Linked DNA regions of Homo sapiens. The protein of the gene in region 3 purifies or fractionates together with the protein of the main gene of each other region. This does not show direct contact. Each region holds a gene or a part of one and is shown on either strand. Other genes may lie near its edges.

The links.
Region 1: the proteins of PEX14 (region 3) and IQGAP2 purify together in Homo sapiens (co-purification; one study listed by BioGRID and IntAct). This does not show direct contact.
Region 2: the proteins of PEX14 (region 3) and GNPAT purify together in Homo sapiens (co-purification; one study listed by BioGRID and IntAct). This does not show direct contact.
Region 4: the proteins of PEX14 (region 3) and TBC1D15 purify together in Homo sapiens (co-immunoprecipitation; one large-scale study listed by IntAct). This does not show direct contact.
Region 5: the proteins of PEX14 (region 3) and ATAD1 purify together in Homo sapiens (co-purification; one study listed by BioGRID and IntAct). This does not show direct contact.
Region 6: the proteins of PEX14 (region 3) and HSD17B4 purify together in Homo sapiens (co-purification; one study listed by BioGRID and IntAct). This does not show direct contact.
Region 7: the proteins of PEX14 (region 3) and OAS1 purify together in Homo sapiens (co-immunoprecipitation; one large-scale study listed by IntAct). This does not show direct contact.

Annotation. Positions count from the first base shown.
Region 1 is NC_000005.10:76,703,142-76,707,686, reverse strand, and holds part of IQGAP2 (ras GTPase-activating-like protein IQGAP2), read right to left. Parts: intron 488-4,545; coding exon 374-487; 3' UTR 1-373. UniProt on the Homo sapiens protein: Binds to activated CDC42 and RAC1 but does not seem to stimulate their GTPase activity. Associates with calmodulin.
Region 2 is NC_000001.11:231,243,688-231,248,232, reverse strand, and holds part of GNPAT (dihydroxyacetone phosphate acyltransferase), read right to left. Parts: intron 1-4,545. UniProt on the Homo sapiens protein: Dihydroxyacetonephosphate acyltransferase catalyzing the first step in the biosynthesis of plasmalogens, a subset of phospholipids that differ from other glycerolipids by having an alkyl chain attached through a vinyl ether linkage at the sn-1 position of the glycerol backbone, and which unique physical properties have an impact on various aspects of cell signaling and membrane biology.
Region 3 is NC_000001.11:10,617,476-10,622,020, reverse strand, and holds part of PEX14 (peroxisomal membrane protein PEX14), read right to left. Parts: intron 3,690-4,545; coding exon 3,604-3,689; intron 1-3,603. UniProt on the Homo sapiens protein: Component of the PEX13-PEX14 docking complex, a translocon channel that specifically mediates the import of peroxisomal cargo proteins bound to PEX5 receptor.
Region 4 is NC_000012.12:71,919,214-71,922,785, reverse strand, and holds part of TBC1D15 (TBC1 domain family member 15), read right to left. Parts: intron 2,074-3,572; exon of another isoform or gene 2,056-2,073; coding exon 1,939-2,055; intron 1,419-1,938; coding exon 1,332-1,418; intron 1-1,331. UniProt on the Homo sapiens protein: Acts as a GTPase activating protein for RAB7A. Does not act on RAB4, RAB5 or RAB6.
Region 5 is NC_000010.11:87,751,536-87,756,080, forward strand, and holds part of ATAD1 (outer mitochondrial transmembrane helix translocase), read right to left. Parts: intron 3,273-4,545; coding exon 3,152-3,272; 3' UTR 1-3,151. UniProt on the Homo sapiens protein: Outer mitochondrial translocase required to remove mislocalized tail-anchored transmembrane proteins on mitochondria.
Region 6 is NC_000005.10:119,528,539-119,533,083, reverse strand, and holds part of HSD17B4 (peroxisomal multifunctional enzyme type 2), read right to left. Parts: intron 3,191-4,545; coding exon 3,104-3,190; intron 1,819-3,103; coding exon 1,680-1,818; intron 1-1,679. UniProt on the Homo sapiens protein: Bifunctional enzyme acting on the peroxisomal fatty acid beta-oxidation pathway.
Region 7 is NC_000012.12:112,916,470-112,920,956, reverse strand, and holds the end of OAS1 (2'-5'-oligoadenylate synthase 1), read right to left. Parts: intron 4,449-4,487; coding exon 4,219-4,448; intron 3,411-4,218; coding exon 3,257-3,410; coding exon of another isoform or gene 3,200-3,256; exon of another isoform or gene 2,361-3,199; coding exon of another isoform or gene 2,244-2,360; exon of another isoform or gene 1,569-2,243; coding exon 1,404-1,568; coding exon of another isoform or gene 1,264-1,403; 3' UTR 1,054-1,263; downstream 1-1,053.

The DNA.
Region 1 (4,545 bases), on a different chromosome or scaffold from region 3:
ATTACGTTATTCAAGTGGGACATTTAAAATTTTTTTCATAGGAAAATAGGTTTACATGTTTGTCCCTAGTCAGCTAAATTTCCCACCCCCCAACTTTAAAACAGATCACAGGATGTCCAAAGTTTTAAATCAGAGTACCTATATCACAGTACAGTGTGGATATGTTTCCATTAATTCATTTTATGTCTCATTCTATTATAGTATCAAATTAGCAAAAAGGCACCTGGGTACATTCTTCAGAACAGTTTTGGTCGTTTTAAAAAAATCACACATTTATAAGCAGTGATTTCAATCATGTTTAAAAACAAAAATATTAAACAAATTCATTTCCTAATCCAGATGATACAGAATCCAAGAAATTTCTGTAGGCACTTCACTTTCCATAGAACTTCTTGTTCAGCAGGTATATGAGAAGGTTTACATTCACTTTAACCTTATCAAACATTTTCATTACAGCTACTCCTTCATATTGCATCTGAAGTAAATCCTGAAATTGTAAAAAGCATCATTAAATCTCAACTTTGACATTTTGTGCATTTAAAAAACATATTAGAAGAATTTGTTGACAAAAGTCAGATTCAATTGACCTAATCACCTGGGTGGGGTCTAACTATGTTGCCCAGGTTGGTCTCAAACTCCTGGCTTAAGCTATCTTCCCACCTCAGCCTCCCGAGTAGCCAGGACTACAGGCGCATGCCATGGCACCAGGCCATAGATGGGGGTTCTAAAACTTAAGTGTACATCAGAATCATCTGGTTAAAAACATAGGCTAGTTAAAATAAAGGCTGCCTGGGCTCCTCCCACAGGAATTTCTTGTTATGTAGCTCTCTGGTGGGGCCCATCAATTTGCATTTTAATAAATTCCCAAGTGATTGTGACTTAGATGAAAGAAAATAGCTTTTTGGAATTGATAAGGGCTGTATGAAAGTAAATGATGATCATTAAGTTAATGTCAGATATATAATTTCAATTTTTAATCGAAAATGTTAAAACACAAAGTTCTGGCTAGATGCATATTCTTTAGAAAGCAGTGTTTTCTGGCTGGGTGTGGTGGCTCATTCCTGTAATACCAGCAGTTTGAGAGGCTGAGGCAGGTGGATCACTTGAGGTCAGGAGAGTGAGACCAGCCTGGCCAACATGGCGAAACCCCATCTCTACTAAAAATACAAAAATTAGCTGGGCGTGGTGGTGCACACTTGTAATCCCAGCTACTCAGGAGGCTGAGGCAGGAAAATCACTTGAACAGAGTAGGCAGAGATTGCAGCGAGCCGAGATTGCACTGCTGTACTCCAGCCTCAGCGACAGAGAAAGACTCTGTCTCAAAAAACCCGAAAAACAAAAACAAAAACAAAAACAAAAACAAAAACACAGAAAGCAGTGTTTTTTTAAAGTGAAGTGAGCAAGACATTCACTGGGGAAGCAAAAAGAATATTAGAACTCCTATTTCTATTTATTTTTTCTCATTTTTTGGACTTTTTTGGTATATAATACAGCACGTTTTAGAGTACAATAGCAGAAGCATGTATACTTTACAAATAACTATGTATGGAGAGAAGTGCTCATACTATTTCCTGATGAAGTGACCAAAGTTTGGAGACCATTGTACAAAGCGGTGGTCCGCACTTCTTGAACTAGGCTACTTCTGTTTCTGTACTGAGAACAAGCCCTCATTCTTAAGTCGAACTGTCATTCTGTTTTTCACTGCCAGCATATAAACAAAGGAAATCAACTCTCTTTTTAAAATAAGTAACTGGATCACACCAGCCATATGCATGAAACTAAGCTGTAACATTTCATAGTAACATAGGTACAGGAAGCCTTTCCCAATGGAAGATATAATTCCTGAGCTGTCCTGGCCCAATATCTAAGTCTCATTTTCTTGTTTCTAGCAAGGTCAATTGTAGAAGTTGGAGTCATCTTTGAGAGAACTCTGACTCTTGGCAGCTTCCTCCTCCACTTCCTCAATTACCTCTCACTGCACTTAAGAAAACCCCTACATTATTCAGATATGCTTCTAGAACTAAAATTCTATAGGGAATTGAAGTCCTTTCATCAATAATACTTTTAGCTATTTAGAGTGTAGAGGAGATTCACTTTTCCTCTGGGAAATGCAACATCTGTTAAACAAAGTCTAGTGGAAAAGAATTAAACCAATAGAGTTAGATTGAAAAGGAATGGCATATGTAGGGGAAGTAGCTGGGTCCCCAAAGTAGGGAGCAGAGAAAACATGGCTGGACTCATGACTTGAAAAGCAGACTTTAGTTTTAGCTCTGCCATTTGCTATCTTAAGACCTTGCAACATGACATAACTTCTCTGAAGTTCTGTTTCCCTGTGTGTAAATTGGGGATAACACTGCCAATTTCACAAGGGTGCTACTGGGAATGAGATATGAGATTAAGGTATATGCAAACCCTTTGTAAGCTACTCTTGTCTTGCAGGATCAACTGGAATCCTATGAGACAGGCAGTGGACTAGAGTGATGAAGAACTTGGATCCCAGCTGCATTATCTTCCATAATTATCCCAGCTAATTATCTTCCATAATTAGCTGTCTGAACCTCAGTTCTTCATCTAGGAGAGGAAGAAGGCCCACCCTGCAGTCCCCGATAAATACCTGACATTATTTTTACAAGAAGAATATATATCACATAAGTCATATCCTCCTGTTACCTATATGGCCTATAATTATAGGATATAATTCTATCCTATGGTTTTCTTTAGGAACTGAAGGGAAAATGGGCTGAAGATAACCAAGAGACATAGAGCTGTAATGTTAGAAGGGGCTTTCTTTAGTCCTTTCAAACTTTGGTCCTGTTCCTGGTCCTTTACTCACAGTAAGGACCTGGCCATCACATTTCTCTTTGACAATTTACACATTCATGCAATTGACTGAAAGCTGCATATATAAATAGAAGTCTGCCTTTACATCTGACAGCTATCAAATGCAGGGCTGGCTCCGTGGGTATGCAATCTGTGCAGCCGCACAGGGTCCCATGCCCAGGGTTTTATTCTCTTCTGTCATCATCCTAAAATCCTTAATAATTTTAAAAACAGGGCACTGCATTTTTATTTTGCTCTGAGCCCTGCTAAGGATGTAGCCAGTTCTGATTATGCACTACTGATTTAAAAAACCCAGGACATACTGGTCACCTGCATATAGCTAAGGATTAACATTTCACAATCCATTATGTGTATAAATGAATGGTATGAACAGCTAATCTTACTGTATACAGAATCCTTAACAAAGGAACAAGTGAAGCTTGGTTTTTATACCAGTACTCAAAGGAAGTCTCATGGAATTATTGCTTTCTCTCTAAACACAATATAAGGTGTCTCCTGGTCACTTGTGACTCATTGGTCCAGTTGATATTGACTGGCCCTGGATAATTTCCTTCTTGGCAATCACATATGTCTTTTGCTATTTCTACAGAGGAATCACTAACCAAAGGGTATCACCACAAGCACCTTCTTTTCTCTTCCTGTATTTATCTGTTACACAAAATAACTGAAGACCCTAATTAGCTAAATTATTAAATGGATACATTTAGTGACATTTAAAGTAAGTTAGAAAACAATACTGTTTACTTAATTATACTTTCAATAATTACATAATAGCTTTCATCTTATCTCCGAATTCTAATTTACTCCATTATCTCAATGTCCTTATCAAACCCATTCAGCTCCCGTTTTTCTTTTAAACTTACAAGGGCTGCCAGAAAAGAAGGGCTCTGGCACACACTCCCATGATGGGGAAGTAATTCCAGTGCATGGAGCCCTGGGCTGCACAGACAGTGAGGCCAGAATTCACATCACTCTCAGGATCTTAGTGAGATGATTCATGTAAACATATGCAAAATACCTGGAAACCATTTTGTAAGTAGTTTGGGGCCCAGGTAAGATGTTATTTCCATTTAAAAAGTGTTACATCAAAAAAGAAAAATAAATTACTTCTTTAAATTGGTTTTGTGCTAAGGATTAAGAAGTTGGGGGCAGATGAACATTTGTTTGCAGTGCTCTCTTTTTTTTTTTTTTTGCACAGAAACTGGATTTCTCGGTTTTCATTTACGTGTATTTGGCTTAAATGTGGCTCTTATGATAAAATAACGATAATTTATATTGCAAACACCATTTTTCTATGTATAGATATCTGTTTTGCATAATGCCTTTCATTCCTGTGATCCCAAGCATTTGACAAATAGAGTTAATAAATTGACGTAAAAACTATTCTAGGGGCCAGGTGTGGTGGCTAATGCCTGTAATCCCAGCACTTTTGGAGGCTAAGCCAGGCAGATCACTTGAGCCCAGTAGTCTAAGACAAGCCTGGGCAACGTGGTGAAACCCTGTCTCTACAAAAAATACAGAAATTAGCCAGATGTGGTGGTGTGTGCCTGTAGTACCAGTTACTCGAGAGGCTGAAGCAGGAGGATCGCTTGAGCCCAGGAGGTTGAGGCTGCAGTGAACCATGATTGTGCCACTGTATTCCAGCCTGGGCGACAGAGCAAGACCCTTTCTCAATGCCCCCCCCCACCCCCTCCCCCCACAAAA
Region 2 (4,545 bases), about 220 Mb from region 3:
TAATACACATAACATATAAAATAAGCCTTAATGAATTGCTTATGTTATCAGCTAGGTCAACAGTAGGTTACTACTAATGAAACTTTTGGAGAGTCAAGAGTTATTGTGAATTTTCGACTGTGCAGAGGGTTGGTGCCCCCAACTCCCACGTTGTTCAAAGGTCAACTGTACATATATAAACACAGACATGTATGGGAGCGAGGGAGTCTTCAGGATAAGAACCCCTAAGGGAAACTAGCAGGCATGTATACTTTGAAAAAGCTTGCCAAATACGATCATCTACAATCCTTCCGTGGTTCTGTTACTTGCAAGGTGGACTTACATCAAGTCCACCTGTCTTAGCATATGACCCCAGGCTCTTCATGACCCCCCACCTCCTGCCTCATGACCATTCCTCTTAATCCAATAGTCCAGCTATGCCAAGACCTGCAGTTCCCTAAACACACTACGTGTTCCCAGATCTCTGATTCAAGTTGCTCCCTCTACAGAATAGCATTCATTCTCAAATATCTGAATGCCTATGTGCTTGACACTGTGGTATGTGCTGAGGATATAGTGGTGATCAAGAGAGAGACAGTCTCTTTTATGAAGAACAAGGTGGATGGTGGTACCAGTTATTGAGAGGGGCATTTACAAATGCTCCTTCCGCACTGTTCACCTGGGAAATATTTAGCCATCAACCAGAGCTTGTGTTTACCTCTTCTGTGTCCCATATTCTGGTTCTCCCCTTTACCTAGATTGAACAGGTCATCCTTTCCTTTCAGTCTTCACTGAACCCTCAATAATCGGATTTTCAAGATGGTCTCTAAAACACTTCATTAAACTCGTATTTGGTGCCTCCCTTACAAGACTGTGAACTTCTTATCTGGTAGATAAGGTGTCCTATACATTTCTGTACTCCCAGTTTCTAGTATGAACTCAAGCCACTGTAGAATGAAAAAATAAATTACAGAATGAAGTCACTTTTTGAACCCTATCGATGATGGCTCCTCAGTATTCACAGTATAAGGCTCAAATCTCCCCATTCTGGCCCTTACCCGATGTCGAATCCAGTGGTTTTTTTTTTTGAGATGGAGTCTCTCTCTGTTGCCCAGGCTGGAGTGCAGTGGCACGATCTCAGCTCACTGCAAGCTCCGCCTCCCGGGTTCACGCCATTCTGCCTCAGCCTGCCGAGCGGCTGGGACTACAGGCGCCCGCCACCATGCCCGGCTAATTTTTTGTATTTATAGTAGAGACGAGGTTTCACCGTGTTAGCCAGGATGGTCTGGATCTCCTGACCTCGTGATCCACCTGCCTAGGCCTCCCAAAGTGCTGGGATTACAGGCGTGAGCCAACGCGCCCGGCCGAATCCAGTGGTTTTAAACTCAGGCTGCACATTAAAATAACCTGGGGGCACTTCAAAATAAATACTGATATCCAGGTTCCACCTGTAGAGATTTCTGATTAATTTGGTCTGTGAGTGCTGCTCAGCTGTCCAAATTCTTTTTAAAAATACTCCAAGTGATTCCTATGTGCAGCTAGGGTTGAGTGTTCCTGCTCATTAATTGGCCTTCCCTATACCATGCTTGAGAAGTTTTTACTATCATTAAGTAAGTAAATTTACATGGCTACTCACTCAGGAACATAACACAAAGAAGAACCCAAGTAAGCCTTAGGGGAACTATCTCTCCCCCATCTTACTTAGTAGAGCAGGCCTCTCCCTACTGCTAGTGAAATAGGCCTTTCTTATACCTCCCTTTTAACTGCTCTGGAGGATCCACTCATTCAACAGATAGTGACTGAGAGCTCACAGTGTACCAGGCACTGTTTTACAGGCTGTGAATACAGCATGAACAAGGCAGGCAGGGACTGCACTGAGAGCCTACGTGTCCTTATGGAAAGACAGACAACAAATAAACAAGGTAAATTCATTTAGTGATACCACCAGTAGTATGTTGGTCAATGTTTAACCATTTAACGCTTGATATGGGAGAGCTCTGAGTTATAGCATTTGTCAATTTTTGTGGGATATACGCTCCCACCAGGGCAGATTTAAAGCTTCCAATCTGACCCCAGCAAACGCAAAGCTGGGGAGAAATGAGCAGTAGCACACAGTTATACAGGATACAGGATCTCCACCTTCCAGCACGATAGACAAATAATCTCAAGAGCACAGGTAATAGTACAATAATGAGAAAATGTTAAGTTATCAGTATTTATTACCTTTTTTAAAAACAGGATTTAATCGTAAATTTACATAATTTAATATTTAATTTTTTTTTTTGAGACAGAGTTTCACTCTTGTTGCCCAGGCTGGAGTGCAATGGCGCAATCTCGGCTCACTGCAACTTCCACCTCCCGGGTTCAAGCGATTCTCCTGCCTCAGCCTCCCGAGTAGCTGGGATTACAGGCATGTGCCACCATGCCCAGCTAATTTTGTGTTTTTAGTAGAGACGGGGTTTCTCGATGTTGGTCAGGCTGGTCGCGAGCTCCCGACCTCAGGTGATCCGCCTGCTTTGGCCTCCCAAAGTGCTGGGATTACAGGCGTAAGCCACAGCGCCCGGCTATTTAATTTTTAATAATGGCTGTGTTTTAAGAATGGGCTCACAAACTTCATGAAAATTTAACAATCAGCTCTTGCAAGCCAATAGAAGACTGCTGTAGCACACCACTGGAAAGAGAATATAAGGAAAATAAAGCTGCGGTCAGGGCATGGTGGCTCACTCTGTAATCCCAGTGATCTGGGAGGCCAAGGCAAGAGGATCAATCGTTTGAGACCAGAAGTTTGAGACCAGGTTGGCAACATAGTGAGGCCCTGTCTCTACACAAAATAAAAAAAAAAACCAGTCAGGCGTGGTGGTATGCGCCTACAGTCCTAGCTACTGGGAGGCTGAGGAGGGAGGATCACTTGAGCTCAAGAGTTGGAGGTCACAGTGAGCTATGACTATGCCACTGCACTCCACTCTAGGTGACAGAGCAAGATCCTGGCTCTAAAAATAATTAATTAAAAAGCCAAAAATTAACAACAACAAAAAAAGAAAATTAGGCAACTAATGAGGAAAATGAGGAATAGTGATTGGATAGCTGTTTTAGATTCAATGGTTGTGGAAGGCCTCTCTGAGGAAGTGATATTTGAGTTGGGACCTCAATAATACAAAGAGCCAGCAATAAAACTTCTGAGAAAACATAGCATGCCACACAGAAGGGACTATGAGCATTCGAGGGAAGAGCATTTTACTGTCTGAGAAACAGAAGGCCAGGGTGGCTAAAGCCCAGTGAACAAGAAGATTAGTAAAGTCAGAGCAATAGCAGTTAAGAGATCATGTACAGTCTTGTGGGACACTGTAGTAAGGCATCTGCATCTTTCACTTGGACTTTAACAGGAAGTCATCATCTGGATTATGGCACACCAGTGGTTACCCATCCTCAGTCTTCTTTTCATTCTAGGGTCTCACTGAATGATTTCAGGCTCACCGAATGCTATAGATACAACCTACATGCTGAAAAATCTATACATTTAGGCCAGACCCCCTCTCTTGCTCTGGCACCATATTTCTAACCCTACTTGGATCTCTTCCAAACACTATGGAATGTATCTGGCTCATAACATGATAATCCACAAGTTAAAAATCATTATATTTCTCTCTTACATCACAAACTGAACACACCCCAAACTGAATTCTATTACCCTGACCAAACCTGCTCCTCTCCCCATATTTCTTATCAATGAAAGGCATCATCATCTGCCCAGTTGCCAAATCATAGAAACCCAACAGTGAACTTCAGACTATGCTATTTTCCTTAGCCACCACATTCAAATGGTTCCAAAGGATGATGATTTACTGTCCTAAATATCACATAAATTCATCAATTTCCCTTCTTCCTGGGCTCACTGTTACTGCTTCATTACTTCTCTGGATTACTGCAATAGCATTCTAACTGATCTCCACTTTTATGCATCAGATTCCCTACCCAACCTGATTCTCTTCCTACAGTCTCTACTTAGGCAAAACAGGTTACCTATACAGATAATCACACCAGAAACCTATAGTCTTCTCAGACTTTCAAAAATATAAATGTACTTTGGAAGGCCAAGGCAGGTGGATCACTTGAGACCGGGAGTTCGACACCAGCCTGGCCGACATGGTGAAACCCCGACTCTACTAAAAATACAAAAATTAGCCGGGTGTGGTGGCAGGCAACTGTAATCCCAGCTACTTGGGATGCTGAGACAGGAGAATCTCTTGAACCCTGGAGGTGGAGGTTGCAGTGAGCCAAGATTGTGCCATTACACTCCAGCCTGGGTGACAGAGTGAGACACCATGTCAAAAAAAAAATACATATACACACATATATTTATATATATATGTGTATACACACACACACACATAGATGTAAGATTAAAATCTCCCATAAAGTTAAGATTTTATCCCTAAGGATATGTAAACACGACACATAAAATTTCTTTAGGAAATATCTGCCTACTTCCTTACTTTGTTTCTCATGTCTCCTTTCTTCCACCCAAATCTAACTAATTCTAACCCCAAATATGCAAGGGAGTAGTTT
Region 3 (4,545 bases):
TGAGACCCGCTGCCCCCTTCAGTGGGCACTGCCAGAGGCAGTGCAGTGCAAGCCTGGCAGGAGCTGCCCGGGGATAACTTTGGTTCTTAATCTATCTGGGCCCAGATAGGAAAGAGGACGGAAACTTCTCCATTACGGTTTCTGTACCAGGGAAGGAAAAGAAGCTCTCTCACAAGGGGTTTGTGGGAACTCATTTCCAGAGTGACTCCTAAGTGAAGATCATTCTTCAGCAGCACATGTATAGACGCATTTTCTATTTTGCAAAGTGCTTTTCAACCACAGTGTGAGCTATTACCCACAACTGAGCCAAAACTCATCAAAGGTAGCCTTACACTTCAGGATGAAATGTCCTCAGCAAGAAAGGTAAAGAATTCTTGGCCGGGCGCGGTGGCTCACGCTTGTAATCCCAGCACTTTGGGAGGCTGAGGTGGGCAGATCATGAGGTCAGGCGTTCGAGACCAGCCTGGCCAACACAGTGAAACTCCGTCTCTACTAAAAATATAAAGATTAGCTGAGTGTGGTGGCGCATGCCTGTAATCCCAGCTCCTCGGGAGGCTGTGGCTGGAGAATCGCTTGAACCCGGGAGGCAGAGGCTGCAGTGAGCAGAGATCATGCCACTGCACTCCAGCCCGGGTAACAGAGTTAGACTGTGTCTCAAAAAAAAAAAAAAAAAAAAAAGAATTCATATATGTGTGTGTAACCAACTAAACACCCCATTTCTGAGATCAGAAGTCCTAAGGGCAGGAGCAGACACGCTGCCCTAGCCAAAGTCTTCACGTGCTTATAAAGCCAGTCGAGGGCTTTTTACCATTTCTTTTTTTTTTTTTTTTTAATTTCGAGAAACTGAGCAGATGCTTTAGAAATTCTCTTGTTACCATTGTGACTGATATTGCAATGTTTCTTTTCTTTTTAAAACAGAGCGGAGAGCCCAGAGCTTCGTAGAAACTACAAGTGGCAGCTCCGTGTGAGTGCCCACGCTAAGGCGGGCTGCCGAGCTGCCCTCCCGCTCCCGTCAGGCCACAGGCCCTCCATGGGTGGCCATGTGACAGTGCCTACTGCTCATTACAGCCAGGGCATTCATCTGAGGACTCTGGCGTTCGTGTCACATTCTTCTTGGTGCTTGTATACAGTCAGTGATTTGAAGGGGGCACCAGTTCAGAGGGAGAAGAACCGGGTCCCAAGAGGTGTTTTTGTTCTGTTCTGTTTATTTATGTATTTATTTGAGACAAAGTCTCGCTCTTTCACCCACGCTGGAGTGCAGTGGCACAATCTCGGCTCACTGCAGGCTCACTGCAACCTATGCCTCCCAGGCTCAAGTGATTCTCCTGCCTCAGCCTCCCAAGTAGCTGGGATTACAGGTGCACGCCATGACACCCAGCTAATTTTTGTATTATCAGTAGAGACAGGGTTTCACCTTGTTGGCCAGGCTGGTCTCAAACTCCTGACCTCAAGTGATCCGCCCACCTCAGCCTCCCAAAGTCCTGGGATTACAGGCATGAGCCACTGCGCCTGGCTTATTTTGTTTTTTAAATTGAGACAGGGTCTCCTTCTGTTGCCGAGGCTGGAGTGCAGTAGTGTGATCTCAGTTCACTGCAACCTCCACCTCCCGAGCCCAAGTGATCCTCCCACCACCCTCAGCCTCCCGAGTATAGCTGGGACTACAGGCTCACACCACCATGCCTAGCTTATTTATTTTATTTTATTTTATTTTATTTTATTTTATTTTATTGTTTGGTAGAGACACAGTTTCACCATGTTGGCCAGGCTAATATCAAACTTCTGGGCTCAAGCAATCTGCCTGCCCTGGCCTCCCAAAGTACTGGGATTAGAGGTGTGAGCCACGGCACCTGGGCCAACCCAGGATGTTTTGTTTCTCAATTTCTTTTTCTTTTTCTTTTTCTTTTTTGAGAAGGAGTCTTGCTCTGTCACCCAGGCTAGAGTGCAGTGGCATGATCTTGGCTTACTGCAAGCTCCGCCTCCCAGGTTCACCCCATTCTCCTGCCTCAGCCTCCCCAGTAGCTGGGACTGCAGGTGCCCGCCGCCATGCTGGGCTAATTTTTTGTATTTTTAGTAGAGTCGGGGTTTCACCGTGTTAGCCAGGATGGTCTCGATCTACTGACCTCGTGATCAAGTCAGGATCCTCAGCCTCAGCCTCCCAAAGTGCTGGGATTACAGGCGTGAGCCACCGCGCCCAGCCCTTGTTTCTCAATTTCTAACATGGAAATGTCCAGCTCCAGGAATACATGCTACACTTAAAAAATTATATTCTGCTACAACTGTCATTAGCTTTTGTATTACATCAAAAATGAAGAATCTGGAATACCATGGCTGACCATGTTTCATGTGCTAAGAGTGACCATGGCGAGTCTGAGTGCTCATTCAGGTTGTTTAAAAAAGAAAATCACCAGCCGGGCACGGTGGCTCAAGCCTGTAATCCTGGCACTTTGGGAGGCCGAGGTGGGCGGATCACCTGAGGTCAGGAGTTCGAGACCGGCCTGGCCAACAGTGAAACCCCATCTCTACTAAAAGTACAAAAATTAGCCAGGCATGCACCAGCACGCCTATAATCCCAGCTACTCAGGAAGCTGAGACAGGAGAATTGCTTGAACTCAGGAGGCGGAGCTTGCAGTGAGCCGAGATCATGCCACTGCACTCCGGCCTAGGTGACAGAGCGAGACTCCATCTCAAAAAAAAAAAAAAAAAAATCACCAATCAGGGGTGGAGGAGCTGGCAGCCTCGAAAGAAAAGAGGCTTCTCTACAGGGTCCCAAGATCTGGACTGGGCACCTACCCTGGCCTGCATTTTCTAGACTCTAGACTCATTTGCTTCACGTCCAAGTTGGGCCTTCACAAGGGAGTCAATGTTCACGTCATGCCTGCAGTTCTGTTGCAAGCAATGAACCTGGGATCCTGAAAGTTGACTTGAGAAGCCTGGGAAATCCTAGATTTCTATAGATGGCAGCACAACAGACAGAGCAAAAAGAACAGCTCCCATACATCTGATGACACTGAGGTTCTCACCGCCGCTCTTAAATGCTGTGGCAGAACAATGGTGTATAAAGCACTTCCATGTGCCGGGCATGGCTCTGAGTCCTCTACAAGGGAGACTGACTCTTCCGGACTTCACGACAACCTTGTGAAGTGGGGACTGTTATTCCCATTTTACAGACCAGAGCCTGTGATCACCAAGCTCCTGAGGGGCAGAGCCAGGGCTCAGCAAAGCAGCTGGCCCAGCGTCCATGCTCTTCGCCATTATGTTATTCTGTGTCTCAAAACTGCTCGCACGGCTTCCCCGTGCGGGCACTACTGTAAGTGCCTGACATGGGCTGGCAAGGGACAGACCTCACGACGCCCCTGCAAGTGGAGATCTGGGTGGTATATGCTGAGCACTGGAGAAAAGGTGGGCAGAGCCTGCCAAGCCCCACAGCAGGGCAGGGTCTGCCTGGATCCAGCTGTGAACCCCGACCTCTACCACAGCCTCTCACTGCCAACACACTCCAGGGCAGAGCACGGCAGTGCCTCCATGCAGGGGAACCAGTGAAAGGGTGCTGAATGCCACAGGGTGGCAGGGGCACAGCACCTGCAGCCGCTGGGGGTGACTCACCTTGTAGAGCTGGTGAAAGCCAAATGCAATGCCTGCCATGATGATGGCCAGGGCGCCGTAATCTCGCCATCGGGAGCCTGCGGGACCTACAGGCGGGAAGAGGAGGAGGGTTAGAAGACGCACATGGCGTCCTTCTTCGGGTGGGGGCTGGCACAGGTGCCTCAGTGGCACAGTCTCCTCGCCTCCAACAATGGGCAAGTGGAACACTCCAACGCAGGAAGGCAGCACATGATCATCACAACAGCAGCCGGCTCCACCCCTCCTGTTCCCACTGCCTCAACTGGGACACAAGGGATGCCAGTCACCCAACCCTGACTGCAGGCTGTGGGTGGAGGTATCTAGCAGTGAGCTGAGACCTGAGTTGGCAGTCAGGTGGCAGAGGTGATCTGAAGACCAACAGCATGGTCTCTACCTCAGGAACAAAAGATCCAGAGAGGATAACAGGAGTATGTTTAGGGGAGCATAAATATACCCATATATGCCCTACTATAGCTGGCGATAAGCTGGGGGCCACAGCAGAACCAAGCGGGGCCTCAGCGAAGTGGAGAGGGGGACCGTGGTACGCTGGGTGGGGGCACGGGGGTGGGCTGTGGTAAACTAGACCTCCCAGCCCTGCTCTCGCTTGGAGCCAGAGGAGAGAAAACACAAGTCTCCAAATGACTGAGCAAGGCTTCAGAGAATGAGAACGCCTATCAAAAGGGATGGGGGTGGCAGGGGAGAGGGGCTGGGGTCAGCAGGGCCTTGGAGGAGCCCTGAGGCCCTTGGGGGCTGGAGGGGAGCAAGCACAAAAGAGAGACGGTAGGTGGGTGTAGACCAGGTGAGCACCCTGGGCCTGACTAGAGAGGAGAGCTGCTCTGGCCCAGAGGACCCCAAGAGCAGGGTGCTGGGGAGAACGGAGAGGAGCCAAGGAAGCCGCAGGTACAGTGGGGGCTGGGGCGGGGC
Region 4 (3,572 bases), on a different chromosome or scaffold from region 3:
TTGGATATCTTCCAAATTAGTCACTCTCCATCCCACCTCCACATTCCCACAAACATAGCATGTCCTAATATTTGGCATTTATCTCTTTCTACTTTTTGTAATAATATCTTTCTTAGATCATCTGTCTCTCTCAGTAAACAAAGTTCTTCAAGGCAAGAAGTATCTCATTGACATGCTTTGGAAGAGAACAGGTATCAAATAAATGTTTGTAGAACTGAACCAAGTAACAGTTTGGATCAATGAACAAATGATACAAGGACCAAGCAAGAATTTTCATAAAAATGCAAAGTCATAAGGGGTGCAGCAAACCAATGTGGCACATGTATACCTATGTAACAAACCTGCATGTTGTGCACATGTACCCTAGAACTTGAAGTATCAAAAAAAAAAAATGCAGTCATGGCCGGGCGTGATGGGTCACGCCTGTAATCCCAGCACTTTGTGAGGCCGAGGTGGGTGGATCACCTGAAGTCAGGAATTCTAGACCAACCTGGCCAACATGGTGAAACCTCGTCTCTACTAAAAATACAAAAATTAGCCAGGCATGGTAGCAGGCACCTGTAATCCTAGCTACTCGGGAAGCTGAGGCAGGAGAATCGACTGAACTCAGGAGGAGAAGGTTGCAGTGAGCCGAGGTCACGCCACTGCATTCCAGCCTGGACAACAGAACAAGACTCTGTCTCAAAAAAAAAGCAAAGTCATGAGGTGGGCACAGTGGTGTGCATGCACTGGTAATCCCAGCTACTCAGGAAACTAAGGCAGGAGGATCACTTGAGCCCAGGAGTTCAAGGCCAGCTTGGGCAACTTAGCAAGGCCCTTTCTCTTAATAGAAAGAAAAAGCTAAAACACATCAAAAGTATACTGCTTTGGTTCAAATTCAGATAATACATCAAATTTGCCTTGTTTTAAAATAATTAATAACTTGACTAATATAAGTGAGTGACACAGGCTAAATAATATTGATTTAATTATTTCTGATTAGCATTCATTTTTGTTTAGAGATTCTGCATATTTAATATGACAGCCTATTCTGCATTCATGAGCTCAACTGGGTAATATATCATTGCTGAAATTCTACAGCCTCTTTGTTATAGAAATATTTTCATTACTTTTACCATTTTGCCTTATTATTAGCTGTTTCCTATCTGCCATAGTCAACTGTTTTCAATTAAGTGCTGTAAATCTAGAACAGCAAACAAAAAGCCAGCCAATACTTTGTGCCTGCCCTCAGCTTACTAAAGTTGCTATTTTATTTCCAAGAAGAAAAATCTTTCTTGATCTCAACCCACCAAAAACAAACAAATCTTGCAATTACTTGAAACACTGTATACCTTGCATTTTACCATCTGTAGAGAAATTGCTTCTGCCTTGCAGAGTATATCTTCCACATCAATTTTCATGGACAATTCATTGATATGCTAAAAAGTATCAACAAAATAAAATGATATCGAAACTGAATACACTATTATATTCTATTATATAAACAATTTATTACCAGTTATATTTCACTGCAGATAAAATCCTTAAAATAAAAACATTCATATACTACAAATACGTAAGAAATTCAATATATCTTTCTTTAGATTATTTCAAGTTTTAAAGCTAAAGACTAGCTAATAAGCTTATGGAACATTAAATCCAGCAGCTATTCCAAGTCTGATATCTCAAAGTTATAATCAAAAGACAATTAATTTTTGAAAAACTAAACTACATAAAAGAGCACTTGTTGAATTTCCTTTTCTTCCTAATTAGCCAGGTAAAAATAACTGGCCAATATGTATTTGAACTGTCATTCTCAGATAGTCATTCCTAGCACTGTTATTGACACAATTTAAGTTACTCAAGAGATTTAATAATGTTCCAAGGAAACGTTCTGTATATCAGGACCACCAAATAGAAAAGCCAGAACACTAAAATCTGAATTAAAGGAATAACTACCTTAAGTATTTCATTGAAGCCATAATGCTTTTCCATTATTTGCTGCTTTTCTGATTCCAGAATAGCACAACAGAGAAGAAGATGGAAATTTGTACATGGTAGTTCGGTCCACATTACCTATAGAAGGCAGAAGAACTATTTTGCAAATTGTATCAATTCTAAAACATTTTCCTCACAGATACAATTCTGAACACTGAATGACTTCTATGCAAAGTAGATGTTGCCTGTTTAGGGTAGCCCAAGGTTTTTCTAGCTAGGAAATGAGGGGAAGGAGAGTCTTACCTTCAGCTACAAAGTAACTATCATCGAGTTTATATGAATATGATATATTCTAAATGTGGCTCTTTAAGGTAACTATAGTAAGTAAATTACTGAGCCTAACCAGTATGATAAATGTTATTAATGCAGGAGCTACAGACACAAGGTTAAGGTGTAAGGGTTAGATGTATTTTCAATATTTTTCTGAAGTATCAGTTTCTCACTTCGATCTGAGAAAAGACTAAAGCTAAGTCCTGGAAATAAAAAAAGGTTCAGTTACACAGTACATGGAATCAGAAACACCCAGAGGTAGCTCTACATTCTAAATACGTAAAACCCTTGTATCACATTTTATCCCTGATTGTGACAATAACTGAATTAACTGCCCCAAATTTATAACCAAACATAGAAAACGCTTGATCAACAGCTCAGCTGTTCCTAAATACAGATAATATCCTCGAATTTAGGGTCTTAATTTCCCCCTGCTTCATGTACCTAATAATATATTTTCCACAAAGATAAAAACACCCACACAAACCATACCATGAGATCATACCCGAAATGTGTTTACTTCTTTCAAAAGGAGTAAATCAAGTTGAATAATTTTCAAACTAAACCCAATTGTTGAAAGTTTAATTACAATGCAATTAACCTCAAAGGTTTCATTAAAAGTTTGAATTTATTTAGTAAACACAGATTGAGGAGTTATTCTAGCTATGTGGTAATAATATTCTTAATTCATCCTTTAAAACCCATTTATGCCTGAGGATGCAATTTTTTGAATTTTTCAATCAGACCTTGGTGATGACCTTGAGCAGTAGGATATAAACAACTCCCACATGCTTAGCGTTCCAATAATGGAACACTAGGCATAAATACATTAACCCATTTTTAACCCCCAAATTAAGACACTAATTTAACAAAACTGATAAACATTTAAGTACGATTCCAGATAGAGACCATGTGGGTTTTACTTCTAATCTGAGAACAGAGGAAGTGAGCATAAAGTAATCCACTTTTAACTTGTAATCAGCACAATGCCTTGTCTAATGGTAGCACAGCCATCAATAGTATAGGAATCCATTTCCAGCTGTAAAAACCTCAGAGACCACTAGAGTTCCACTGTATAAAGTTGGATTTACAATCAAAATGGATTATCTCCCAATTCTTTCCTTGGAAGAATTTCTGTTATCCTAAGGTATGATCAATCATTATACCAGCATTCTATGAACAAGCACACTGGGCTGGACACAGTGGCATACACCTGTAGACCTGTAGTCCCAGCTACTTATAAAGCTGAGGCAAGAGGATTACTTGAGTCCAGGAGTTCGAGATCAGTCTAGGTAACATAGCAAGACCCCTTCTCTTTAAAAAAA
Region 5 (4,545 bases), on a different chromosome or scaffold from region 3:
AAGGTTCAAGTTCTCCTCAATATGATTTTCATTAACATCATGATTTAGGCAGAATGTTTTCCTATACATGTAAATAAAGAGAACTTTAGCTTTAAAAAAAAGATTAGAGAACTCTATCTTTGATAACTAAATCTATAACAAATTTAATAATGAAGGCTCTGAAAGATTTCTGTCAGCTCTAGATGGAATTATTCTATGACTTCATTTGAAGCACCCAGTTGGTGCTGGAGTTTCAGCCATGCACTATATATATTCAGCATATCAGAATTCTGTTCAATATTCTGATTTTAAGAGAAGCTAAAAAGAAACATAAAATATACATCATCCAATTTATTTTCTTTATCCAGAAGAAATCTGTTAACATTTTCCCAAAATAACAATTCAAGTAAAAAATTCCTACCAACGAGATGATGTTGCCACCATTTTTACACAAGCACACTCACGGCTTGAGACATCCTCATCTAGCATTAAACCTGTAAGTTACAGCTACTAAATAATGTTAAGCTATTATGATGCATACAGAATAGAGTACCCCAACCCAGCTCTTAATGAATGCTGGGTTTACCTGCAGGTAGGGGGTTGGCTGAGATTAAAAGGAGAAACATAGTAAAGGAGATACTAAATTGATTCAAATACTTCATTTCTAAACTCTACAAAAAAGGCCTGAGAATAGCTTGAGACACATCAGACTTATCAAAAGTCTTCCAGCAATGATGCTTTTAGAGAAACATGGCATAAATGATCCTTTCAGTCTCAATCCCTGGAGTACAGGCCTAGGGATTATGGAACTGGTTTAAGCATGGAGAATGCTTAAAGAATGAGCCTGGTCAACAGGAAATGTACATCAGTGTGCAAAAGTGACAATATTAATACGACAGCTAACATTTGAGCAGTAATTCTGTGCCAGGCACTATGCTGAGGGCCTTACATGCATTATTTTATTATCCAACCCTTTAAGATGAGTGCCACTGTTGCCCCATTTTACAGATGAGAAACTGGGCTCACAGACACACAGTTAATGGGGAGCCTGAGTTTAAATTCAGGAAGCCTGATTCTAGATCCAGTACTCTGAAGTATTACCCAAAATGAATTATCTTAGAATCTAGAATTCAACTATATGTGAAATGCATGTCTAAAACAGAAGGATAGATGTTACATAACACTAAAAGTTATTTAAAAATCAGGAAAATAGTTTCCTGAATTACTTTATGGTCTTAACATGCCTAGATGAGTCATAGTTGCTGGGATTAGTATACTTCTCTAACTTCATTTGATGATTAAAACCACGAAGAAATTGAATAACCACTCCTACTGGATATTGTGAATTTAAGAGAAGACAAAAAGAAAGGACATGTGGAGGTATACATTACTCCTTATTTTCGATTAATATGTCACCAGATTAAAATTAAATTACTGAAATTCATATTAAAACAGAAATGACTAGATACTAGGATATGTGCTATAGAAGTGTGAAAACTCCATAGCAAGATAAAGTCTAAACACAAGTTTTATAAACCAAAAAAAATCCCAGAAAACTTAAAATTACTGAAAAAGACCAAAGATTAAGTGGAGAACAACCAATAAAGAGGGACCCCTTTATTACACATTTATAAAATAATAGAATATAGTTATTAAAAATGGGACACTTTTTTTCATTTTTGGTATCTTGTATTCAGTTTTTCCATCCTCTTCACAATCTTCCATAACTTGCTTTTTGTTATCCATTGTTCACCTGAAACTTCCACCCCACCATTCAAAGTACAACTGAAGAATAAACGATCTAACAGATTCTTGTGAGACACATTATCAGATAAATTAATCCAGTGACACATGAATAAAGATTTAGAGTTTTTAAAGAAATACAGTAAAAGCAAAAACATATGAAGCATAATTTAATCTGATGATTCAGAAGGCACCTCAAGATTGTGTTGTGCCGTTTTCCTCATGCTGCGTGGTTAGGTGCCTATAACAGAATTCTGGTTAGTAAAATTTTGAAAAAAATTCACATATAATTCACATTAAACGACTACAGATAGATACAATATGGGCATTTTGATGTGTACATTTGTACCTGACTTAGGGCACAATTTATAATAATATACTAAGAAAACTAAAATTAATTATAAAATGAGTATTTTTAGCACACTTAGTAACAGCTACTTGTTTTAAACTATTATTTCATTTTTGGTGACCAAATTATATTTGACCATAATTAAAGAACACATAACCTTAAAATAATATTTAAGAAACATAGTTACAACAGACATGTTACATTAAATGAAAAAAGGAAAGAAATGTACATGTATTAAAGGGTACTGAGGTTTTTCAAACCCATTCTTTTGAAAGGCCTTTTAATCCACTTTCATGTAAACCAATTTAAATTTAAAAAGTTTATACTCAAGAGGTGAAATCAGTGTTGAGCACATGGCTGCCTAACAACCATTCAATGCTGATCACTGAACTAGTATTTTCATTTGATTATCCTGACAAACATAATAATTGAGCCCATGTATATATGCAAGATGTGGAGGATCCAACTAATAACTGCAGAAATAAAAACACTCAACTTAAAAAAGGTTGAAACAAATGACAAATGGAAATGGCTGAATCACTGTACCTTTTTGACACAACCTTAAATCTTAGTTTTACTATATATTATTTGGTACTCCTGGATTCAGTAGTTGGGGTAAAAAAAGTTTCTATATTCAAACATATCTACAGAATGTCAATATAAAATGTGTGGATATATACATTTAATATACACATACATACACGCACACACACAAACGCATACTCACATGTCTAGGAACCAGCACCTAACCACATCCCCGTTTCTCACTAATGACCCAATGAATCATTTATGACTTTAAGACCAGCTTAGATTCTATAAGGCTGTACAATATATGGCTGAAAAGGTCAAACACAAGCACCCACGTTCAGGCTGGATTCAACTGTTCCTCCTCATGATTTTTGACCAACAGTAATACCACCTATGTAACAACTATATCTCAATAACTTAGAATTCAGAGTATAAAACCATAAACACTGAGCTCCCTCATTGTTTAAAGAGCACTCTTTCCGTTCTATTTCCACTAACTGATAAGAGGACACACCAAACTAGATCACTGAACTGTACAAATGATCTTTACTCTTAATCTAAACAAACATGTGTTAAAACATTCTGAAATGCTGCATCCTTTGATTTCTTCATCTTTTCAATTGCCCGATGCAGGTCCTGCTGTTGAACAGGCCGAATTTCATCTTCGTCATGGCTAAAATGCAAACAAAACCATCAAATACTCAAATAACTTTAGAATATGCCTCCCTAAAATATTTTACCAAGATTTAAAAGAGATGCATGTGGTAAAAAAAAAATTTTGTTTTCAACTGTAGAAAAGGGTATAAAAATGAAATCTCTTTACCATTCAAGACCCCAAAGACAACCACAATGAACAGCTTCATGTAAATGCTTCCAGGAATTATCTACACATAGAGAAATCATAAGGAATTTTTTAAAAGCACTGAGTGCTAAGAAGTAGGAAGCTAAAATAGCTACAAAGACTTCACATCTATAAGTACACAATATTACCATAAGGTAAAAAATGTTATATGGTTTATTGAAATGGGAATATAATTCCAATTTAAAAAATCACGTTATTCCCATGAAAACTGTAATTAAAAAGTAGCATTTCTAGGTATATACTTACATGCATGTTTTGCTTTTTACAAATTGAGAGTAAAATTCTTCACTATCAGTAAAAATCAACTAATCCAAATCCTCCCTACTTCAATGAGAAACAAAGTCCAGAATATTATGGCTCCCTTGTAATTTACAGATATTCAGGGAAAAACATTCAGGAAAAAGTTATAACCCAAGTCCATCCAGATTTTTCATACTGAAATATAAAATTATAAAATATGAAATTCAGGAAATATAAAACTAGCCAGACTTTTCATACTGAAATACAGTTTTCAGGGCTTTGAGGCAGCAAAAAAATAGATCTTTCATTATTAGTGTAATTTACCTAAGCAAAATTTACGAACTGGTTGGTTATTTCTCCTCTTAATCTTATATATAAGAATAAAAACCTGGCCAGTAGCGGTGGCTCACACCTGTAACCCTAGCACTTTGGGAGGCCAAGGCGGGTGGATCACCTGAGGTCAGGAGTTCGAGACCAGCCTGGCCAACATGTCGAAATCCCGTCTCTACTAAAAATACAAAAATTAGCCGGGCATGGTGATGGGCGCCTATAATCCCAGCTGAGACTGAGACAGGAGAATCGCTTGAACCTGGGGAGAGAGGTTGCAGTGAGCCGAGATCACACCACTTCACTCCAGCCTGGGCAAAAGAGCGAAACTCCGTCTCAAAAAAAAGAATAAAACCTTTGGAAGGTAGATTCTGAGGGTGCACTAACGATGATGAGACCAGAGCCACTGCATATACAGCTACCAGTTGACAGAGTAGCTTTCATGCAGACCTTTCTATATCAAAGCTCGCAAAACATTTTTTTGCTGAAGTTTGCTATGGCAACACACTGCAATTAA
Region 6 (4,545 bases), on a different chromosome or scaffold from region 3:
CTGATGTGTTTTGGAATTTGGAATCAGATTTTAGAAAGGAAATATAATACATAAAACATGTATTCCATATTACAAAAGGCCCCCAATGGTGCAACAATCTATAAACGTGCATATTACTTCTATACTTGTCTAACTCACACTAGCTGAGTTAAAGACAATCAACAGCATCATATAAGTTCAAGTCACACTTCACCACCAGTGAATCATGAGAAAAAAAACTGTTTATTTTTAGAGCTTTTTGGTTTCTGGAGTTTCAGATAAGAGTACCTATGTTTTAATTTTCAAGAGCAGACTATTCTGTAGGCCACATAAATCCTCTGATTCTTTATCTCCCTTATGCCTTTATGTCATCTTTCATTTCCTCCGATTTTTTACCGTTGCTTAGAACAATAAAATAGGATTCAAAGGGTTTACTACAACAACTTCTGGCTGGGTTTAGAAATTAATAGTAATAAATACTATAAAATATGTTAGTTATTTATGAAATATCTCAGTATCATATTATACTTACATATTTCACTCATACTAAACAAAAAATAAACATCACTATCCATACAATAAACATTATTTTAATAGAAGGTAAAGCATCAATTTCAGAACCTTTTTTTTAAAAGGCAGCCATACTATTTTCTAAAACTATGCTTTCTACATGGCTTTTAGCACTCATTCCAACATATACAGAATCAGGCTAGTTATTATGTGTTATTGACTATACTAGAAGCTAGAAATAGACAAACTGCAGCCATTTCTCAGGATTAAGCCCAAAGTCAAATGAGAGAAAACATACAATTATAAATGACCATAATACAGTAAGATAACTGTGACAAGCAACAGACTCTGCTGAAAGGGAATTCAGGGACTTACTGCTCTACCTCCTATCCATTTTCATCTTTTCAACCTAATTGAAGAATCTCTAGGAAAATAAAGGTGAGGTTAGAATATTCCATAATTAAAGTGTGTGCCATGATTAAGGATGTGAGTTACACAGCAGATGCAAAAGATCTGACAGAATATTTTTTCTTTATTCTTTTTATCCTCTAATTTCTCTTTCTTCACAAAATGGTACCAGGGTCTCTTTGGACCTCCACATCAGTGAAAAGAAATATGACTGCTTTCTTTCTGCGGCAAGATGTTTTATATTGGGTGCATGGCACTCTAATAGATAATTTCCCTAGATTAGATAAACAAACACCTTTGACCATAATCTGTATATATCTAGAAAATAGTGATTTTATATTGATAATTAAGATAATCCAAATTATTGTTTTGGTATGAATAAAATAATTTTGTAACTGTCAAATATCATGACTTAAAAATACTTCATTTTGACTTGATGAATTTGCCTTATGTTTAAGAAGCTGAAGATTAGATAAAGATGCATATAGCCAAGATGACTGTTTAAACTACTTTCAAGGATTACAATGAAATCTTAAAACAGGTTATTTTCATTTCAATTGATTCCCTACATCTCTTACACACACACACAAACACACACACACACACACACACACACACCCCCCTTTGGACATTCCCAAACCTATTCATTCCCACGGGAAAAGAAAAAAAACTTACCTAAAAAGGTAAGATTTACCTACCTTCAAAGGTCTTTAATTGTTAAAAAGATACTTTATTTACTAAGAATTACCTTAGAATATTATAAAATCAGGGCTATAACTTACTCCACTTAGCCCCAATATTTCCGCCTTTGGTTATATGCCACTCAAATACAGCATTTACTTTCTTCACCACCTCAGGCCCAATATCCTTTAGGCGGCGTCCTATTTCCTCAAATACAAAGGTACTCTGAAGCTTCCCGCCCTAACAACGACAACAAAATAAACTTTAAAAGTTCTGTAAAAATAACTCATGGAGAAAAGTGATTATAAAACATGTGCAAAAAAAAGATTTTTTAAAACTCTGTACATAAGTCAGTTTTCTTCATACAATGTGTCTTTCATACTTTCTTATTTGTATACATCACTCAGAACCTCAGTCCTCTTAATAACAGGATTTTACTTTTATTAGAATTCAGAAATAATATTTTAAAAGAAAAATAGGAACTGGACAACCTATGTTTTAGCTAACTTTAGAAAGATCCTGATCAAATTAATCAACTTCTATGGTCTCATTTTTTTTATTTATAAAATAATACTAAATTACATGAAGTCTGAATTTCTTTACAGCTCTAAAACTTAAGTTTTGGGTTTTTTTTGTTTTTTGTTTTTTTTTTTTTTTTTTGAGACAGACTTGTCGCCCAGGCTAGAATGCAGTAGTGCAATCTTGGCTCACTGCAACCTCCACCTCCCGGGTTCCCGTGATTCTCCTGCTTCAGCTTCTTGAGTAGCTGGGATTACAGGAGCCTGCCACCAAGGCTGGCTAATTTTTGTATTTTTAGTAGAGATGGAGTCTCACCATGTTGGCCAGGCTGGTCTTGAACTCCTGACCTCAAGTGACCTAACCACTTCAGCCTCCCAAAGGGCTGGGATTACAGGCGTGAGGCACCGAGCCCGCTCTAAGTTTTTTTTTTTCTTAGACTATTCTTAAGGGATTTTAATTTTCAGTCAGTTATATGGTTTATGACAGACAATTAAAGATCATGGGTATCGAAACCTCAACATTACAAAGTTAATATTTCAGAGATAGAATATAAACATTTTTATCAAAAGTCTCAGCATGCTAATAAATAATACAATGTTTTAATAAATTATACACGCTGCTGGTTTATATATTTGCATACAAAACTTTATATAAACCTTTAAATCAAGAAAAAGGTACAGGATATTCAACTTTTTAATCTATTTTTCTCCAAAACGCTGTTTGCTTAAGATTCTGATTAAACAACTGATTTATTTATTCTAAAACTAGAAAATTATGTTCTCTTGAAAGATATCCTAGTATCCTGCAAAACGAGTTTTTTAAAGTTCATAAATTGCCAGAGTATTCCTTCTATTCCAAGCTGTTTTGAATTAATGTTTTTCACTTCAAGAATTAAGAATAGTTTCATGGTTGTTAATTTTCTAACGTAGCCTAACCACTCTTAAAGTCACCTTAACTGAAATTCCTAAATGAGGAAGTGGCTTGGATACTAATTTTTATAACCTACCTCAGAGGGTGTCTTAGCTGAAGTACCAGATGTTGGTGCAAGATCCACATATGCATTTGAAATGACAATGTCTCCAGTTTCTTGGACCTTAGGAGGAGAAGAAAAAAAAAAGATTTATTCTGATTACAATGGAAGTGTAATTTCACTGTGAAACAGTACAAAGTTTAAAATTTATTATTTTTGCCTCATATGAAAAAGAATATAATAATCCAGATAAAATAAAAGGCTGCTAAAGTAAATGTCAAGATGAACAAACATAAAGGCTTTCTGATTTAATACAACTGTTACTAAACCTGGCTTTATAATCAGCTGGAGCCCTTTAAAACAAACAAACAAAGAAACCCTATGAGGTCCCATCCCCCAAAATTCTAATGTAAATACACTGATAGAGACTGGGCCTTGGTATTTTGGGCATTTTTTGGGGGGGAAGTGGGGATCAGGGGATGCACTCTTATAAACAGAATTCAGTCCATGCTGAATCCTTATAAATAGTAAAAGGCATAGCACAATAGCCACATGAGGTAATGGTACTCAAAGTACATTTGTTCTGCTAATATAGAATAAAATTGGCTAGGAACAAATCATAATAGTGTTTTTTAAGTAGTAATTCCAGGTCTTATTTCAAGAGGAAGTGTACACAGCATGAACTAAATGTCTAAATAGGCTTTTATCAAAATAGTCATTAAAGGAATTCAAATTCTAATTCCCAGTCCTTCATTTCAAATTATTCCAATGGCTATTCTTTCATAAAAATTGTTATTGCTACAAATGTATAGGATAAGTTTCTAAAGTTTAACATAGCGTTTATTAAAACTTTGATTTTTAACAATCAAGAAGATCATTCTCTTGACTACATCTCATCATATTTTGGAGGAAAAAAGATCTTTCAAGTAATTTGTTCACTTTACTTCAAATTACATACATTGAAAAGCATGGAAAGAGATAATTAATGAACAAAATGCACTTCAGTAAATTACTTTATTGTTACCAAATCAAGCAAATCATTTTAAAACACTGGTTTAAAATGTTTCTTATATCTTAAGAATAGAAAGGAAAGGAGGAAGGGAGGGAGAAAGTGAGAAAAGGAGGCAGGGAGAGAAGGAGTCCTAAAACTAATAGAAAAAGAATATCTATAATCACTGAAGAAAAATATAGCAAATATGCTGAAAAGATAAGACAGCATGCTTAGAATTTAACAAAATGGCAAGAATACATTATATTTAGACATTTAATCATTTCTCAGCCCTTCAAGTTTGTATCCATAGAAATTATTTACATACTATTCATCACCAGAATTGCAGGAAAATAAAAACCTGTAATATAGTCATGGTCCTTAACACTTTTAGAGTTCATAATCTTAATCAAAAAGCAAAACTTACTCATACAAAACAAATTAGAAAATGTGAGGGCTCCAAAATATGTGGCACAGATATTAGCTGCAA
Region 7 (4,487 bases), on a different chromosome or scaffold from region 3:
AGAAGGATTAGGGTTCAAGTTCAGACTCTGCCCCTGACCAGCTGGGTGACCCTGGGCAAGCACTGTAACCTCTTAGAACCTCAAGTTATTCCACTTAATATTATGAGAATAACAACAAAACCCATCTCACAGGGATGTGGGGGGACTAAATGGAAGAATATAATCTGGACGGACCAAAGGCTGCTTACCAGCCACCAAAAGTGACCAGCAACTCAGGTGATCAGAGCATGCTAGGTTCTTTTGTGAGTATTTATGAGAGTTTTATATTTTAGAGTCTTATGAATGATATGTTGATTCTTGGTCCCAAGGACAGTGTGACAATGTGGCAATGTAAGTCAGTATAGTCGAATCTTTAATCCAGTGATTTACCTTGGAGGACAGAGCTGTCCAATAGAAATACATAATATAACACAAGCCACATGTATGATTTCACATTTTCTAGTAGCCACAATTAAAAAGGGAAAAGAAAGAGATGAAGTTCATTTGATTTAACTCAAATATATTTAAAAATTGTCATTTCAGCACACAATTAAAAAAATTATCAGTTGGCAAGAACTTGGCATTCTTTTCATTTGTACTAAGTCTTTGAAACCAAGTATATACCTTGCACTCACAGCACATGTAGATTTAGACTAGCTACATTTTAAGCATTTGATACATGTGGCTAGTGGCTGCTGTGTCACACAGGGAGGTTCTATAATTTTTCTCAGAGATATGGAGAAAGGATAAATCAAGGATGCTTATTTCAGAATTATTAGTAATAGGAAAACCATCTAACATTAAGATGTTTTGCACAAATGTCAACTCCATGAGGACAGGGATTTTTTTATTTAAAAAATTCTGGAAGTCTTGGCTCTGCAGGGTCATGAGGACAGGGATTTCTGTCTGCTTTTGTGCATTGCTATATTCCCAGTGCCCAGAGCTATGCTTGGCACATAGTAAGTGCTCAATAAATATTTCTTGTTGAATCAATGTATATACACACACAATACCCCTAGATATGCATCTGTACTTCTTGGCTCTGTGCCTTGAAGTTAATAAACACCCAATAAATGGTATTTGCTTTATTTTTATTGTTATTGATAATACATTAGACATTACCCTCCCATCAGGTGCACAGAAGAAAGTCAAGGCTGGAATTTCATTCTCTTATCTAAATCTCTCTGTTCTCTCTCAGGGAATATTTTCAGAGAATAGGTGGAATGAAGTGAGGCTGTGGAGAATGTTATCTATGATAGGATAGAGGGCATAGAAGGCCAGGAGTCAGGAGACCTGGGTTCTGTCCTGGATTATACACCAGCTCACTGAGGAGCTTTGTCCTCTCTGGATCAAGAGTCCCACCTGAAAATGAAGGAACTGGTCCAGATAACACTGGAGCCCTTTCCCCCAAGATGCACTGGCATTCAGAGGATGGTGCAGGTCCAGTCCTCTTCTGCCTGTGGGGTGGATGCTGCCTGGAGTGTGCTGGGTCTATGAGAGAAATGAGGGTACTCATGTGTTCCAATGTAACCATATTTCTGATACCTCCTGGGATCGTCGGTCTCATCGTCTGCACTGTTGCTTTCAGCCTGAAAGGGTGAGACACATGATCACATCAGGGAGTCTTCCTGCATTGCAGCTGGATTCAGTGAGCATTTACGGTAGACACTGTGACATGCCATCTGGATCCCCCTTTGAGGAAGGACTAACAAGCCCCAGCTGCTGGGACAGTGGTCAGCAGACAGACTTCAGCCGTCAGCCCTTTTAGGGGTTGCCTCAGCTGCAGAGAGCCTTTTGCTCAAAGCCATGCCCTTTCCCAAGGTGCCCAAGCACAGTGAGTGATCCACGTAGGGGTATAGAAGCCTGGCCACCTCTGTCACCATGGGGCAGCTCTAAAGGCCATTCCAGCTCCAGGGCTGTCCTTGGAGTTGGCTGAAACTGGCATTCGCTCTGCATCCCTGTTCACTTCTCCCTATTCTCTTTCATGCTTCCTTCCTATCCTTTCTTCCCCCCTTTCCCTGAGTGCTGGTTCCAGTGGCTCTCCCCCAGAACATCCTGCATACTAAATTCCATCCTGGAGTCTGCTTCCTAGCCATCTGCAACATCATCAATCCCCTGGAATCAGACAGATTCCTGCTTGGAGGTGGAAAGATCCAAGACTGGGTCCTTTGCCCCTGTTTAGCTGTGTGACAACCCAAGTCACTCAGCTGCTCAGAGTCTCCCATTGGTCAGATGAGAGGTGGGGATGTGACAAGGCAGGCTGTTTAGCACAGTGACATGAGCACTGGCTTTAGAGTCCACTGAGCTTGAATTCCATTTCCACCACTTGTTAGCTGATGTCCTTGAGCAAGTGACCTCACCTCTCTGAGCCTTTGTCTCATCTGTAAGATGGGAATGATAGAAAACATGCCTCATGGGACTTTTCAAATAACTAAAAGTAGAATGTCCATTCAACCCAGCAATCCCACTACTCGGTATCTACCCAAAGGTAAAGAAATCATTCTATCAAAAGACACCGGCACTCGTATGTTTATCGCAGTACGATTCACAATAGCAAAGTCATGGAATCAACTTAAGTGCCCATCAGTGTGAACTGGATAAAGAAAGTGTGGTATATCTACACCATGGAGTATTATGCAGCCATAAGAAAGAATGAAATCATGGTTGCAGCTGGAGGCCATTATCCGAAGTGAATTAACCCAGAAACAGAAAATCAAATACTTAACATCTGCTAAAGATGGGAACAATAGACACTAGGGACTCCAACAGGGAGGAGGAAGGGAGAAAGGCAAAGGTTGAAAAAATTCTTTTTGGGTACTCTGTTCACTATTTGGGCGACAGGATCAATAGAGGCCCAAACCCCACCATTACACAATATAGCTGTGTAACAAATGGCACATGTGCCCTCTGAATCTAAAATAATAAAAAATTTTTAAAAATGCCTCATGGGATTGTTGTGACTATTTAATGAGAGAGTGCATATTAAAGGGCTTAGGACAGAACCTGAGCCCGAAGCAGACAGTCAATAAATGGTGTTAGAGATTATTTATTATTACTCTTAGGGGAATGAATTCTGGACAAGGGATGTGAAAATTCCAGAAACCCTCGATTGTGACCAAAATGACTGTAAAATATGGAGCACAGCCTGTCACTATATGAATATAAATGGCCTTTGGCAAGAGGTAAGTTCTTTGGAAAGAATGGTCTCCAGCTATATGTCTCAAGCTTCATGGAGAGGGGCAGGGATGAATGGCAGGGAGGAAGCAGGAGGTCTCACCAGCAGAATCCAGGAGCTCACTGGGGACCCATCCCAATTCTTAAAGCATGGGTAATTCAGCCAGGCCTCAGCCTCTTGTGCCAGCTGCCTCCAACCCTTTGGGTCTCCACCACCCAAGTTTCCTGTAGGGTCCGCCGGGTCCAGGATCACAGGCCTGCAGAGCAGCATTTAGAGAGGGACAGGTGAGAAGCTGGGGCTCTGTCTAGGGAGTCCAGATGCTCCTGGGAGAGCAAAATAGCAGCATGGGATGAACTGGGACTCAGAACATGAGGAAGGGCTCCCTGGGGTATGTCCCCAGTGCCCTATTCCCCAGCAGGCAGTGAGCATGAGGAGAAGGAGCCTTGCACTTGCACCTGACAGATGTGGGTTTGAATCCCACCTCTGCCCTTTATCAGTGATGTGCCCTTGGGTAGGTCACTTGAACTCTCTAAGCCTCAGGATTCTTATCTGTAAAATGGGAATAGTTCCACATACCTATCTCAAAGGCTATGCTGTGAGGATAGAAAAAGCCCAGTTATATGAAATGCTCAGCACAGCGACTAGAACATAACATACATATCAGTAATATTGCTAATAATTTTTACTATTATATTAGCATGTGTTAGTCTTACAACAAGCTTTCAATACCTGGGAGCAATTACTATCATTGTTGTTGCTGCTGTTCTTATTTCAGTTCAAACTGCAGCTATTTTACTCATTTTCTGTTAAGGGTTGGACAAGCTCCTTACCTCTCAGAACCTCAGTTTACTCACCTGTAAAATAATTGGCATAGTGCCTGCCTCACAGGGTTGGAGGTAGGTGTTTAAAACAGATGGCAGTAGTAAAATGCCCAGTACAATGATGGGCAACAGGAGATTCTCACTAAGTGGGGAGCCCTCCCACCTCCTCCATTTCCAAGGCACTGTACCTGTATCCAGGTGTTCATTTACATAGGGGAGCTAAGCCATGTGGGGATAGCATACCTGGGTTTCGTGAGCTGCCTTCTCAGGTACTTTTCAATAATGGGGTTTTTAAAGTCATAATACTTTGTCCAGTAGATGCAGAGTTGCTGGTAGTTTATGACTAATTCCAAGACCGTCCGAAATCCCTGGGCTGTGTTGAAATGTGTTTTCATGCTCCCTCGCTCCCAAGCATAGACCGTCAGGAGCTCCAGGGCATACTGAGGTGGCAGCTTCCCAAGCTTCTTCTTACACTGAGAAGAGGAAAAACAATCAGAAAAAAATTGGTTTGC